Linked DNA regions of Homo sapiens: region 1 is linked to region 2. A link means that fine-mapping ties the variant in region 2 to the expression of a gene that starts in the linked region. Tissue or cell type: breast. Region 2 holds a variant in brackets; the other region holds the start of a gene. All regions are shown on one strand. Distances are between the middles of the regions.

What was found. PIP is the estimated chance that this variant, and not a neighbour inherited with it, causes the effect.
Region 1: LINC01239 starts here. The variant in region 2 is fine-mapped to the expression of LINC01239 in breast (GTEx, PIP 0.95).

Annotation. Positions count from the first base shown.
Region 1 is chr9:22,643,054-22,651,244 of GRCh38, forward strand. LINC01239 (long intergenic non-protein coding RNA 1239) reads left to right here and starts at 3,147. Exons shown (of 6, transcript NR_038977.1): 1 at 3,147-3,243.
Region 2 is chr9:22,952,530-22,960,720 of GRCh38, forward strand. LOC124902132 (a long non-coding RNA gene) reads left to right here and starts at 4,424. Exons shown (of 3, transcript XR_007061438.1): 1 at 4,424-4,501; 2 at 4,844-4,924. The variant C/G (reference allele first, on the strand shown) is at 4,094.

The sequences.
Region 1 (8,191 bases), 310 kb before region 2:
TGGCAGCTACTACCTCAAAACCATCTTTATAATAATCAGAAATTAGAATTCCAAATAAGTCATTTAAATTCATTTGTCAAACTGCTCCTTTTCCAGGCTTTCCAAAAGATGCTAATAAATGGTAATTATCTTCAGGTATTAGCAAAAAAATCTAATTTTAAAATTTGGGAACCTATTTATTACCATTCTCAGTATTAAATATCTTTCCCAGTTAAAAGGATGAAATCTGTAGATTCCCTCCTCCCCATTTTGCAATCCATCAACTTTACAGAAAACTATTGATTGTTTTCCAGTGAATATAAAAACATAACTAATATGTAGTGAATTATTATGAGCTCGCCACTGACTAAAGCACTTTAAATGTATTAATATTATCTCATTTAACTTCAAATTAATGACTCTTTTCCCCTACTTTTAGATAATGATACTCAGAGAAGTAGAGAAGCTGGCCTAACATCACAAACCTATGCTGTTGTGGAGCTGGCATTTGAAACCAGGTGTTTTCATTACATTCTCTGATTTTAAATACTTTCAAAAAAGCAGGAAATCTACATGGACTTCAAAGAAAATTGCCTAAGAATATCTTCTTTGAATGCATGCTTTTAACATTAATGTTTTTTCAGGATTATTATATCAACTGGATTTCTCACACTCAGTTTCAGTTTCTTCACCACTCAAATATGCATAGTTTCTCCTCCTTGGGTAGAAGCCACAGTGTTCCTCAGTTACAAGGAGTGCTTTATATGAGAAATGGCATAAACAACTGTTGATACTTGTTATGGAGAAAAGTCAAATAACTCAGAAGCATGTGAAATCTGAAGTTTAATATTTTGAAAGAGTTGCTATGTAGAAAACAGGTGGCAGAACTAGAACCCATGGAGGAAAATTAAGGGATGAAGATTTTGGTTCAACACCAGAAAAAAATATTTTTAAAAAGAAATGTAATTAGTGTTGTCTAAATCATAATTGAACAGTCTCAGGAAGCAATGAGCTCTCTGTGGATAAACTCATATTCTGGAATGTAATAAGGCAAAGATGTAATAGAAAATGATCCAGCAATAGATGGGGATAGAAAAAATATAAGCATATAGTTATATAGTTTGTGTCAGTTTCCTCATGATTGTCAAGGGTTGGTGGAGGGTTAGAGAAGAGGAGGTCGCAGGATGCTATGGATTGAATATCTGCATACCCTTACCCCCAAATCAAGTTAGTATGTTGAAGTTTAATCATTAAAATGATGGTATTTATAGGTGGAGCCTTTGGGAGGTAATTAGGACATGAGGGTGGAACCCTAGGAATGAGATTCATGCCCTTATAAAAAGAGATATGAGAGGGCTTGTGTCCTGTCCGCTTTCCTCCATGTGTGTTAGATTGAGCAGCTAAAACAGATACACCATACATTGGGTAGCTTATGTGACCACACAGTTCTGGAGGCTGGGAAGTCCAAGATGAAGGTGTCAGTAGATCTAGTGTCTGGTGAAGGCTGGCTTCCTGGTTTGCAGATGGCTGCTTTTCCCTTATATTCCCACATGGAGGAAAGCCAAAAGAAGCAAGCCCTCTCATATCTCTTTTTATAAGGGCACTAATCTCAGATGAGACAGAGCAACATAGAATGAAAAAATAAAAAGAACAAAATAGGGAGCATGAAATTTTAGTGACTTGACAAACAATAGACATTTTTCTTTCTCTGCTCATACATCGACAGAAACTGGGAATATTTTTGTCATATTCTGCCACACTTGAACAAATTTCAGTGGAGGCATCATAACTGAGCCTGTGTTAAGACCAAACCTTTACTTGACTTACAAAACTTTCTGTGAGTTTTTTTCTTAGTATGGTTGATTTCTTCAAGAAAAAGGATGTAAGTTTACCAATAAGGTATTTAAAGTACAAGTTACTTAATTCTTTATTAGCAAATAGTTGGCTGCTAATTTTTGCTTCTGAAAACACTTAATAATTAAAGGCTACAATATTTATATCTCAAGAAACGTCTCAGGTTTTTTCTCGTCACTAAGCTTAAATCTTACTCTTAAGCAAAAATATTTTAAATTTGAAAACATACATTGTATTTGACTATTAGCTTTTTTTTTAAAGAGAAGTCATTAAACTTAAAGCTAAAAATAAATTTTATATTTATGTGTAGCAGTTACCATATTGATGTGCTAAAAAGTTTATAGATTTAGCTACCGCAATAACAACTTTCTAATCAAAAGTTGAGACTGTTGTGAACAACTCTTTTGTGAATATAACCTAGCATTGTACAGTATAGATTGACTATCGCATATGCAAAATGCTTGGAACCAAAAGTGTTTCAGATTTCAGATTTTTTTTTTTTCAGATTTGGGAATATTTATTTGCATATGCATAATGAGACATCTTAAGGATGGGACACAAGTCTAAACACAAAATTCATTTATGTTTAATATACACTGTATACACAAAACTGAAGATAATTTTATATAATATTTTACGTAACTTTGTACCTGAAACAAAGTTCTGTCTGTGTTTTGACTGAGATTTGTCATATGAAATCAAGTGTGGAATTTTCCACTTGTGGCATCATGTCAGCAATCAAAAAGTTTAGATTTTGGAGCATTTCCAGTTTTGAACTTTTGGATTAGAGATGCTCAACCTGTATTTCCTACAAACTGTCATTAGGAAAAATCAGAAGACTAATTATTGTCTAAATTTTACCGTCTAGAATTTCTAATATCATTCAGCATTTTCAACTTTTTTCTTAATAGTTTCATATTGGACTGCTTGCTTCAAATTCACACATTAACCTAATAATTAAAAGCTAGTGGAAAGAATTATCAGATTAAAGCCTTAATTTCTACAAAGCATAAGTTAATAGAGAAAAACAAGTGCAAAGAGAGGCACCAGGTGGTTCATAGGACCTTCAGGTAAAACAAATGAGATTTTATTAGGCTTACAGATAGAATTTTTGCCTGTGTGTCAAGGGATAACAGGAGTGTTGATTTGAGTGGCTTATGAAACAGGCATGTTTAGCTCAGCAATATTACTCATCACTTGGCTTTTTAATCTGCCAAGAGATGGGTACGATTTGCACTTATGAACTGTGTGTAATTATGGTGATTCAGGTTTTGGCTTATAATGAATCCTCCATCACAGTCTGTTTTCTCGGTCTTTTATTTTCTGTTCCTCTAAGGGAAGAGAGACCAAAGAGAATTCTACTTTGACCCTGGCTTAAGAGTGGAACATAGATGTCTATAAAACTATGTGGTATGTACATTTATAAAAATTTTAATTTGCATTTTCTCTAGGTTTTATGTTTTTGGTGATAACAGAATAAAGTGTGCATGCCATCCAAGATAAATGGATGAAGGAAGTTCACTTCTTTTTAATTATCTTATACTGACAGATAAAGCAAAATAGAAAAAAAATTCTGTATTTAACCTTAACAAGCTGAGACACACTAGAGAAGTGGAAAATAGATTGTGTGCATCTGATCGTGCTGCACATTCCCTTTAGGTTGCAATCTCTGCTGTTATTACCGACAACAACTGAGACTACAGTTTTAACTCTGTATTTACTTCTAGTTATCCCACAATTGGTACATAGTATTGGATGGAGCCCTGTATTTCAAGGAGTTCAACTACCTAATTTTCATAGCTGAGATAACTAAGTTTCTGAGTCCGTTTTCCTTTTTCCAGTCTGATCTCTCCTTTTCTCAAGGCTACTTTCGTTTCTGATAACATACTAAAGGTTATAGGATTTATCGGTATTTTGCCTCCTGGGGTCATTTGTTATTAAAAAAGAAACTCTATTCAAATAACTGAATCTCTACTATTGGATTTTCCAAAGCTATGATAGACCAGCTAGTGAAACTATTTTGTACTGGAATTTGGCAGGGTGATGGGGTGGGGAGAAGGTGTGGAGAGGAATTCTTGTCCTCAGTCCTGATATTTCTTTCCAGGTGAATGTGGTCTTCCGTGTGCTACACTCCTTGCCTCTCTCTGCTCTTCTATTCACTATCTACCAGAGAAGATGGAGTGATTCACTCTGATTAATAAATTTGGAAAAAATCAATTAGACATGCTCCGAATAGTTCCACCCTTTTTGTCTTAGAAGACAGCTGCCCTCAGAGAGCAAGATTTTACCTTTGTAAATTGGTACACATGATCTAGCTTAGCATTGCTTTTAACAGGGGGAAGTCTGTATAATTCCTGGATTATTATCATGCCAGTGGGTTCTCATATTATACTTTATCCTCCAAATTAATTTTTTGTGGTGAAATTGATGCTTTTACTTCTTTTCTTTTCTTTTCTTTTTTTTTTTTTTTTTTTGAGACGGAGTCTCACTCTGTAGCCCAGGCTGGAGTGCAGTGGTGCCATCTTGGCTCACTGCAAGCTCCGCCTCCCGGGTTAGCGCCATTCTCCTGCCTCAGCCTCCCGAGTAGCTGGGACTACAGGCACCCGCCACCACGCCCGGCTAATTTTTGTATTTTTAGTAGAGACGGGGCTTCACTGTGTTAGCCAGGATGATCTTGATCTCCTGACCTTGTGATCCACCCGCCTCGGCCTCCCAAAGTGCTGGGATTACAGGCGTGAGCCACCGCGCCCAGCCGATGCTTTTATTTCTATCTTCTCATTTGTGTAAAGTGAATAATGATATCTCACTGTGATTTCTAGTTCATTTTTGTGACTCACAAATATAGATACTACTTCCGTTATATTACCTGTTTATTTTCTTATGTGAATTGCTTTCTCATACCCTTTTCTAAATTTTCTCTTCAGTACTTTACAAAGGGATTTGAAAGTGAGTTTGGTGATAATACGAAAGTATTTCAAGTGGACAAAGTGCAAATAATAGTATCAGTTGATGTTAGCATACACACACAGGAATGTCTTCTTTTATAGTAAAATTTATTTATTTATTTATTTATTTATTTATTTATTTATTTATTTATGACAGAGTCTTGCTCTGTCGCCCATGCTGGAGTGCAGTGGCCCTATCTCGGCTCACTACAAGCTCAGCCTCCCAGGTTCACGCCATTCTCCTGCCTCAGCTTCCCGAGTAGCTGGGACTACAGGCGCCCGCCACCACACCTGGCTAATTTTTTGTATTGTTGTTAGTAGAGACGGGGTCTCACCGTGTTAGCCAGGATGGTCTGGATCTCCTGACCTCGTGATCCGCCCGCCTCGGCCTCCCAAAGTGCTGGGTATAGTAAAATATTGAGTGTGTGTGTATATGATAGAGAGAAAATAATACTAATTTTAAGAGAGTTATATGAAAATTCTTTTAGATTTCTAAGGAAAAGACTGACTCGAACAAATGGACATTTTAAGAAAGCTATTGCTACTTAGTAATGTATGAGTCAAATGGATAGAAACTCCACTATTTGATGTGAGGTGTCTAGAATGTTGGGAAAGTGTTAATTCAATAGTGCTGTAGACAAAAAGTTTTCCACATTGATCCTATTTGTTCACCCATCTCCCTCCACCTAGGGGAACTACTTTTTAAAAGATGTTATGTTGTTCAAATTTCATATATAACCAATGTAAGTGAGCCATTAGTGTTTTTGGAGTATGAGGTAATAGATTCCTGTCCCCCACCAACTCCCTTATTTATCCCCTTTATGATTTCCTCACATAGCTAATAATGCAACAAGAAGAGCTTTAGGGGTGCAGAGAACTCAGAAATATCCCATTGCAATAGAAGGATATGTTTCCTTTTAAGGTAGCTCCGAAACAGCCCATTATATAATCATTTTGTCCCAAAGCAGTGGCTTTCATACTCACCCTGCCCATGGGCCTGACCATAACTGTTATTTCACTAAATCAGGTTATTTTTGGAGTGCCCAATTCTAAGTTGGCTGCTACTGGTGACATACATTTCATTATAGTTTGAGAGTTGTCAATATAAATACTCCACTCATAGACACCAAGAAGGTTCTTAGGAGGCAAGATCTAATCTTTAGAAAAATTTTATTGACATTTCATAAAATATTTATTTAAAGCTTGAGAAGGAAACTTTCTGGCTGTTAATGTTTTTCAGCTACCAATGAGTCTAACTCACGCATCTTTTTTCTTTTGGTTGCAATTATTATACAACCTCCTGCACGCCCGCTCCATTGCACCTGCCTCTCAAAACCTAAAGAAAAAAGATTTAAGCAGCTAAAATTTTAATAAAATATGGAACAGTCACATGAATTTCTGAACTTTAAAATGGGGAAAACAATCATAGGCTCTGATGGCTAATTTCAGAATCCTTTACATTTCATAATGAAAATTTCTATGTATAAAGATTCAAACTATTTGGAGACTTACATTTCAAAGGATAATTCTACTTTTTAGGCACTGTAACTTATTTTTATCCAAGAGAAAGAAGAAATGGTTAACTGAAAAGATTTAGTGACAGTGTTGTGATAGGAGTCAAAACGTCTCTAGTTGGCATAAGCATAGGAAAATAACTTTGTTGCAAAACACTTGAGCTCTGTTTGCAGAAATGAATGGCTAGCGGATATTTTTGTTCTCTCTGTTATACTAATGGATAAAGGCATGCTGATAAGTCACTGTAGCTCTGTGGGGTTAATGCCAGAATGAAATACCAGAGCTGTACTCTTTCTTAGGAAATAGCAGATTCTTACAGACATGATCACAACACATTTTACAGACAAACTACATTGCCTCATGTACTGTAGCCCCTATTCTGTGCTTTGGGGGTCACCACAATAATTTCTCTTAGAAATTTCCTAATTTCAATAAAGCCTACCATGGAAACTTATTTGGTTGTTTGTTCCCTCTCTTATATCTGCTCCTCTGCGTCTTTCCCTTCTTTTCTGGCATTTGTTTTTCTTCTGTTCCTTTGGAGAAAGCACAGCCTTTAGAGCTAGTCAGTTTAGAATTTAGCTCAAATTTTATCTTGGTCACATATAACTATGGAAAAAGTATTTCCTTTCTAAAACCTCTCTGTTTTTTCATACGGCAAATGGAGACTATATACTCTACACTTAGGATTAGAATTAACTGAGAGACACACACATTTTCTCATTTTCTTTTCTTTTTTTTTTTTCTTTTCTTTTTTTTTTTTTGCTTCTCAATCAGCTCAGTTCTCTGTAGTAGATGAGGTAGTTATCAACGGGGAGGAGCTAGGAGTTTCCAGCTTAGCAATTTAATACTTTTAATAACTATACAATTATTTCGTACAAATACAAGAACCTAAACAGCTTATAGAGCAAGAATTACAGTAAGATTGGCCCACCATGCTTTTCGCAATCTCCCATAGTTGTGCTTTCATAAACAAAAGTGCTAACCTGAACTTCCAAATCAACAACTAAGCTCTGGCTCTATTACTACATCCCAGAACCATGACACAGATACATGATTATAGACCCTGAACAACAATGCCCATCTTCACAGGCACTTTGAAATGGGGCAGGTTTCATTTTAGAGTATATTTTAAGGCATAAGAGTTTGCCTCCAGAATTTTAAGTTGTAGTGAAAATACTCTGTCTGTAACATAGAAAAATAAGCTTAGAAGACTCTCCGAGTTTCCTTCATGGATTAAAAAGTTGAGGATTCTTTTAACTACATAAATTCTGTGTCCTTTCAAATAGTAGTACCCTTACAACTTAAATAGCACAGGTGTACGTTACCATTTCATACCGATCAGCCCCAGTGGGGCGTGGAGGTAGGGGAAACAGTTAAATAGAGACTTTCCCAGATGTGTTCCAAAATCTGTCATTTCTGTTAAATTGGTAATTATCAAATTTATGACTAAATAAAGATCATATAGAGCTTTTCTAAACACAGATTTCAGAGTCTCAAATTTAGAGAGTCTACTTCAGTAGCTCTGGAGCATAGGCTAAGACTCTGGATTTTTACAATGCATTTTAAGGAATCTTGATGTAAGTAGTCCTTGAACTTTACTGAAAAACTTTGCCCTACACCCTGCCTTATAAATAAGTTATACAACTGCTTCTTGGGGCTGTTAAGCAATGGAGTCTAGTGAGATTGTTGCAATTTCTTGTGCTGAGAGAAAGAAATCCAATTAAGAAATGTAAATTCTTCTTCATGCTGAGAGAATATGAGGCAATAAAAATATGAATTTCTTTATGTTGCATAGAAGCTTCTGGGAGCCCATAAAGGGTGAGCAATCCTTACCAAGCAGCTGGACTGTCATCATCTTCTCTGGCTTTTATGGGAGAAGATGAGGTACTTTTGGCACT
Region 2 (8,191 bases):
AAAGAGGTTGAACTCTTTTATTTACTTATGTCTTACAATGATTTGCAGGTAAAAGGACCTGATAGCTGGGTAAGAGGCTCACATGTGGAATCTCAGAACTCTGGGAAGTCGAGGCAGGAGGATGACTTGACCTCGGGAGTTCGAGACCAGCCTGAGTAACATAGTGACACCTACCTCTACAAATATTTAAAAATTAGCTGGGTGTGATAGTATGCATCTGTAGTCCCAGCCACTAGGGAGGCTGGATTGCTTGAGTCTGGAAGGTCAAGACTGCAGTGAGCCATGATTGAGCTACTGCACTCTAGTCTTGGTAAGAGTGAGACCTTGTCTCAATAAATAAATAAATAAATAAATAAAAGAATCATATATATATATATATAAATATACACACACATATATATAAAATATATATACGCACACATATACTTAAAAATTAATTTTGTCTTTTCAAAACTAGTAGTGGAGTCTGAGTGCTTAATCATTATTCAGTATATATATTCAGTATACATATTCTGTATATATACACATATACTGAATATATATATTCAGTATATATATTCAATATACAATATATATATTCAATATACTATACATACCTATTGTATATACATTATATATAATATATCCTATATATACATATATACAATATGCATATTCAATATACAATATACATATTCCATATACATATACACAATATACACATATACAGTATATATATTCAATATACATATTCAGTATATATGTATACATATACACACACATATACTGAATAATGGTTAAGCACTCAGACTCCACTACTTCATAACCGTGATTTTAGATATGTGCTTAACACCTTTCAGCTTTTATTTCCTCATGTATAGCATGGTGACAATAATAGTGCCCACCTTATAGGATTTTCTTGATAATTAGGTGAGATACTCAATGTAAAATCACTTGTCACAAAGCTCCGTGTCATAAAAAAAGTCTCAGTCATTCAAAGTATGTTTCTGACTACAATGGGATTAAATTAGAAAAATTAGAAGTCAATAATAAAAAGGCATGTGGGCAATACCCAAGTATTTGGAAATTAAATGAGAGATTTCTAAAACAAATGAGTCAAAGAAGAAATCAAAAGAGACATTCAAAGTATTTTGAATTAAATGTAAAAGAAAAGCCAACATATCAGAATTTGTGGTATGCCAGTTCTTAAAGGGAAATTCATAGTGCAAAATGCCTGTGTAAGAAAAGAGGAATAACAGCAAGTTAGTGATCTTATCTTCCACCTTCAGAAACCAGAAAAAGAACAAATAAAACTCCAAGTAAGAAGAGAAAAAACAATAAAGCAGAAATAAAAAATTTTGAGGCTGGCCATGGTGGCGCACACATGTAATCCCAGCACTCTGGGAGACTGCGCTAGAAGGACAGCTTAAAGCCAGGAGTTTGAAACCAACCAGGCAACAAACTGAGTTTCCATCTATAAAAAAAATAAAAAAGCTTATCTGAATGTGGTGGCATGCACCTACCTGTAGTCCCAGCTACCCAGGAGGCCAAGGCAGGAGGATCATTTGAGCCCAGGAGTTGGAGGCTACAGTAAGCTATAATTCACTGCACACCAGCCTGGGGGACAGAGCAAGTCCCCATCTCTAAAAATAAATTAATTAAATTAAATAGTAATATATATTTTAAAAAGGTTCTTTTGGGGAAGGAGGCAAAAAATTCTTTATATATAAAGCATAGATTACATATACATAAATAGACATACAATATGTCTCTGAAATTAAAATTTATTGGGGGCAATTAAGAAAAAAGTCAAAAAAGACTCATAGGGTAGTGACTGAAATAACGTTTGAGGAAAACTGTTCTACGGATATTAAAAGAACAATAATGGAATATTATGAGCAACTTAACTAGAATACATACAAAAATCTGGATGAAACAGACAAATTTCTCAAAAGACCCAAACCACCAAAGTTCACTAAAACAAAAAAATAAATAAGAAGAATAGTCCCACATATTTAAATATATATTTTTGGTAAAATCCTTCCTACCATGAAAACTTCAGTCCCAGATGCCTTCACTGGTAAATTCTACTAAATATTCAGGGAAAAATAATTATACAAATTCTATAAAAATTCCTTCAGCAAGTTGACAATATGGGAATACCTACCAGTTTTTTCTTTAAGGTCAACATTACACATTACTGAAACCAGCAAAGACATTATAAGAAAAGAAGATTACGTAATAATATCCCTCATGGACATAACAATGTTCTGATGAAAACACCAGCAAAACAACTCCAGATATATATAAAAAGATAATACCTTGTCACAAAAGTGAGGAATATACCAAGAATGTAAAGCTGGTTCAACATTCAAAAATCAGTCACTCTAATTCACCATATTAACGCACTAAAAATTAGAAATACGTAATATTATCTTTTTGAAAGACACAGAAAAGCATTTGCCAAAAATCAAACATTCATTTCTAATTAAAAACGAAAACGAACAAAACCACCTCAGCTAATTAGAAACAGAAGGGTATTTCCTCAACCTGAAAAAAAATCAATCGTTTAAAAAGCTAACACTGTACTTATTAGTGGAACACTGATAGTGTTCCCCCGAAGATAGTAAAAAGACAAGGATATTTACCCTCATCACTGCTGTTAAACATTGTACTGGATGTTCTAGCCAGTGCAAACAGAGAAAGAAGATAAAGAACTAAAAGGCATCCAAAGTAGAAAAGAAAAGGTAAAACTGTTTGATCCAGAGATGACATGATCATATATGTAGAAAATCCATTGGATATACAAAAAAGCTTCTAGAATAGATGAATTTAGCAAGACTTGCCGGATGCAAGATCACTATGCACAAATCAATTGTATTTGTTTGTATTAACAATGCACAACATAGGACTGAAATAGAAAAATACCACTTAAATTGACATAAGTATTTAAATACTGTGGGATATGCCAGGCATGGTGGCTCACACCTGTAATCCCAGCACTTTGTGACCTGAAATGGGCAGATTACCTGAGGTCAGGAGATCGAGACCAGCCTGACCAACATAGCGAAACCCTGTCTCTACTAAAAATACAAAAATTAGGCAGGAGTGGTAGCACATGCCTGTAATCCCAGCTACTTGGGAGACTGAGGCAGAAGAATCACTTGAACCAGGGAGGCGGAGATTGCAGTGAGCTGAGATCGCACCACTTCACTCCAGCTTGGGTGACAGAGTAAGACTCCATCTCAAAAAAAAAAACAATACTGTGGAATAAATCTGATATAATATGTAAAGTACTGGGACACTGAAAACTGCAAAACATTGCTGAGAAAAAAATTAAAAGCTTAAATAAATTGAAATTTTTTTTTGTTCATTGGTCAGAAGATCCAACATGCTTAAGATAACAGTTCTCCACAGGCTGAACTCTATAGTCAGTGAAATCCTTATTTTTTAAAAATAATTATTTTATAAAATATGACAAGATGATTCTAAATTTATATGAAAATAAAAAGTATACAAATAACTACAGCAAAAATATATTTGAAAAGATGAAAATTTTATAAATCTATAGTGTCTTAGTTCAGATTGCTATAAAGAAGTACAGTGGGCTGGATGACTTAAAAATAGCAAAAATTTATTTCTCACAGTTCTGGAGATTGGAGGTCTGAGATCAGGGTATCAGGATGGTCAGGTTCTGGTGAGGGCCCTCTTCTATTTTGCAGACTGCTAACGTCTCATTATATCCTCACATGGCAGAAAGAGTGTGGACTAACTCTCTGGTCTTTTCTTATAAATGCACTAATCTCATTCATAAAAGGTACTACAATTCATGAACTAATCACCTCCCAAAGGCCCTGCCTCCAAATATCACCATGGTGGAGATCAGCGTTTAACATATGAATTTTGGAAAGACAGTCAGTCGATAGCATATAGTAATCAGAACAGTGTGCTATTCATGTAAAGATAGACATATAGATCAATGGAATATGATAGAGCCCAGAAGTAGACCTTTACTGTATATGAACAATTGATTTTTGGAAAAAATGCAGTTAGTCTTTGCTGAGAAGCTCTGTGTGCATATTGGGGCATATCTTCAACACTCAGTCAGGTTTTT[C/G]TCAAATCTGCCTTTGCCTTTACTTCCTGTTTGCATAAAGCCACAAGATTATTCAGTGATGAGAATTTAGGACCTTCTTATGTCTTTCCTAAGAAGGAGAGAACACTGTCTGCCTGTGTGTGGCCTTCAAGATTCCTGGGAATACTGCTGAGTTTTTCAAAGCCTTAGGAACATCTAATTTCCAGCTTTTACTTTTAAGCTTTTTGTTTATACTATTGTTTGATAGAAATATTATCCACTGCCTTAGGACCATAAAGTTAAACAATAATTCCCTGTTGTGTTTCTTTGTTTGTTTTTACCAACTCCTCCCCTCCCCTACCTCCAGGAAAAGGCTGTTCATGCTGGGTGAGCTCTAAGTCATGTCAGTATAGATAGCTTTGCAAGTGGGGTCTTCCATGAAATTACCAGGTAAGTCAGACAACGGTAATTATTTGGGAATGAGCTCTAACCGTCTCTGTTGTCTCTAGTGCCTGCACTATTGTTGCTTTTTACTGCAAATGTGGGCTATTATTTTTCAAGGCTACCCCACAGCTGGAGAACAAGTGATGAGAATAAAGCTAAAAAGCAAAAAAAAAAAAGCCATAAGTTCTTCCTAAGATTCAGTCACTTTTCTTGAATGAATACTCCCTGAGTTACTACAAGACTTTGGTTAATTTCTAGAGTTCTCAAATAGGTGGATTCTAACTTTAAAAATATTTTTACTCATTGGTTTTGTGGAAGAAAATATTTATCTTTTAACTTTCATTTCAGGTTCATTGGTATATGTGCAGACTTTTTCTATAGGTAAATTGCTTGCTGTGGGAGTTTGGTGTACAGACTTTCATCACCCAGGTAATAAGCATTGTATTCGATAGGTAGTTTTTCTATCTCTCCCCCTTCCTTCTCCCATGCTTCACCCTCAAGTAGGCCCTGGTGTCTGCAGGTCCCTTCTTTGCGTCCATGTGTACTCAATGTTTAGCTCCCACTTATAGGTAGGAACGTGCAGTATTTGGTTTTCTATTCCTGCTTTAGTTTGCATCAGATAATGGCCTCCAGCTCCATCCATGTTGCTGCAAAGGACATGATCTCATTCTTTGTTATGGCTGCATAGTATTTATATATATATACACACACACACATATGCACACACACACACACATATATATATATATCACATTTTCGTCATCCATACCACCACTGATGGGCATTTAGATTGTTTCTATGTCTTTGCTTATTATGAATAGTGCTGCCATGAATATACGCATGCATATGTCTTTATGGTAGAATGATTTATATTCCTCTGGGTATATACCCAATAATGGGATTCCTGGATTGAATGGTAGTCCCATTTTAAGTTTTTTGAGAAATCTCCAAACTACTTTCCACAATGGCTGAACTAATTTACATTCCCATCAGCAGTGTATAAGTGCTCCTTTTTCTCTATAACCTTGCCAGCATCTATTATTTTTTGACTGTTTAATAATACCCATTCTGACTGGTCTGAGATGGTATCTTGTTGTGGTTTTAATTTTCATTTCTCTAACGATTAGTGATGTCAAGCGCTTTTTCATGTGCTTGTTGGTCATGTGTATGTCTTCTTTGGAAAACTATCTGTTCATGTCCTTTACTTACTTTTTTTTTTTTTTTTTTTTTTTTTTTTTTTTTGAGACGAGTCTTGCTCTGTCGCCCAGGCTGGAGTGAAGTGGCGTGATCTTGACTCACTGCAAGCTCTGCCTCCTGGGTTCACGCCATTCTCCTGCCTCAGCCTCCCAAGTAGCTGGGACTACAAGCGCCCGCCACCTACACCCGGCTAATTTTTTGTATTTTTTTTTTTTTTTTTTTTTTTTAGTAGAGACGGGGTTTCACCGTGTTAGCCAGGATGGTCTCGATTTCTTCACTTTGTGATCCACCCGCCTCGGCCTCCCAAAGTGCTGGGATTATAGGTGTGAGCCACCGCTCCCGGCCGTCTTTTACTTACTTTTTAATGAGACTGTTTGTTTTTTGCTTGAATATTTAAGTTTCTTAAAGATGCTAGATATTAGACCTTTGTCAGATGCATCAATTGCAAATATTTTCTCCCATTCTGTAGGCTGCCTGTTTACTCTGTTGATGGTTTCTTTTGCTGTGCAGAATCTCTTTAGTTAAATTAGATCCCGTCTGTCAACTTTTGTTTTTGTTGCAATGGCTTTTGGTGTCTTCATCATGAAGTCTTTGCCAGGGCCTATGTCCAGAATAGTATTTTCTAGGTTATCTTCCAGAGTTTTTACAGTTTTAGGTTTTACATTTAGGCATTTAATCAATCTTGAGTTGATTTTTGTATATGGTGTAATAAAGGGGTCGAGCTTCAATTTTGTGCGTATGCTACACAGTTATCCCAGCACATTATTGAATAGGTAACCCTTTCCCCATTGCTTGTTTTTGTCAACTTTGCTGAAGACCAGATGGTTGTAGGTGTGTGGCTTTATTTCCCAGCTCTCAATTCTGTTCCATTGGTCAATGTGTCTTATTTTGAACCCACATTTTCTCCCAATAATTAATTGCCTTATTTCCCCTCTGCACTTCAGCTTCCCTCTGTTTTATCTTCCTCTTCATCCTAAAATAGTGTTCCATCATTTCAGCCAGATTATACACAATAACATCAATTTTCATATTTCTTTATTTATCTGCCTCCCCATTCCAGAGCTTGCTACGGAAAACCTAAACCTAGATATTAGTATTACCATATAGATGTAATTGTCCATTCCAATGGGTTCTCAGTCAAGCCAGAAAAACTGTGTACTTTTCTTTGATTACATCCTCCTCTAATTACTTTGGTTTAGATGTTTTTCCAAATTTTTGCCACTGTTCTAAATATTTACATCCACTTCACTGTAAATATGAGCATTTCTTTATTGTTTTCAGAGAAAGGAGAAACCACCTTATGGGAATTTGTATAAGATTCCTGTACTGTATTACCCTTCAGGCAAGAATTTATCTTTATCTACTCATAATCCATATTGCTTCTTTCCATACACAAGCTATAACTTGTCTTCTTACCAACTCAAAGCCGTTTCTTTTACCTGTTCTCTAAACTCAAGGTCCTCTGTCACAAGAGTCACGTAGGATAAGTAAACACAAAGTAGTTGTGGTAAACTTATTAGAAACAAGTATTTTCATTTTGGGGAATGATTCTGGCTAGTCTCCAAATCTGCATGTGTTTAGTTGAGTACAATAATGTGGTAGGGAGAATCCATCTGCAGTTGTGCTAAAGGTCCATTGTTGTCAGAGGGTAGAGTCGGGTAGGTAATATGTAAAATAGCAAGCTCTCACTCTTTTTTACCCTCTCAGTAATCTTCCTTGCTTCTTCAAAACCTTCAATGACTATAAATGCCCTTTAAACCGGTTTCAAGCTTTTCAGTTTGGTGTTTGATTCTATGCAGCTTTAGTTGCTACTTACATTTTTCCACTGCTATTTCCTGAATATATCTCCCAAAGCTCATGTTTTGTGAACTTTATGCTCAATGAAACAGTTTGGTGGAGTGGGGCCTTTAAGATGTGATTAGGTCATTAGGGCTCTGTCCTCATGAATAGATTAATCTGTTATCCTGAAAGATGATTAGTTATCATGGGAGTGGGCTCCTGATGACAGGACATGTTCAGCCTTCTTGCTCTTCCTGCCTTGCACACTCACTAACCATGTGATGCCTTTCTATTATAGGGTAACATAGCAAGAAGGTCCTCACAAGATGTCAGCACCATGCTCTTGGACTTCCCTACTTCTAGAACTGTGACCAAATAAAACCCTATTCTTTATAAATTACCTAGCTTTTGTTATGCTGTTACAACAGCAGAAAATGGATTAAGACACCCACTCACATATATTTTCTTCTTTGTCTTTTTAATACTGTGAAACAGAATTTTTTAGTTAATTTAGTTATTCTTATATTAGACTTTTCCATTTATGAAAGAATGAGTTCTTACAATGGACCTCTTTGATACCATTGACTTGAATGTGTAATAGGAAGAACTCTAAGGCTTCTGAAATAATCCAACTGTTTATCTGCAAAACCACCTGCAGCCAGAAAGTGAGATAACAAAATCACTGAAGAAATCAAAACATGAGAGTTGAATCACAAAACC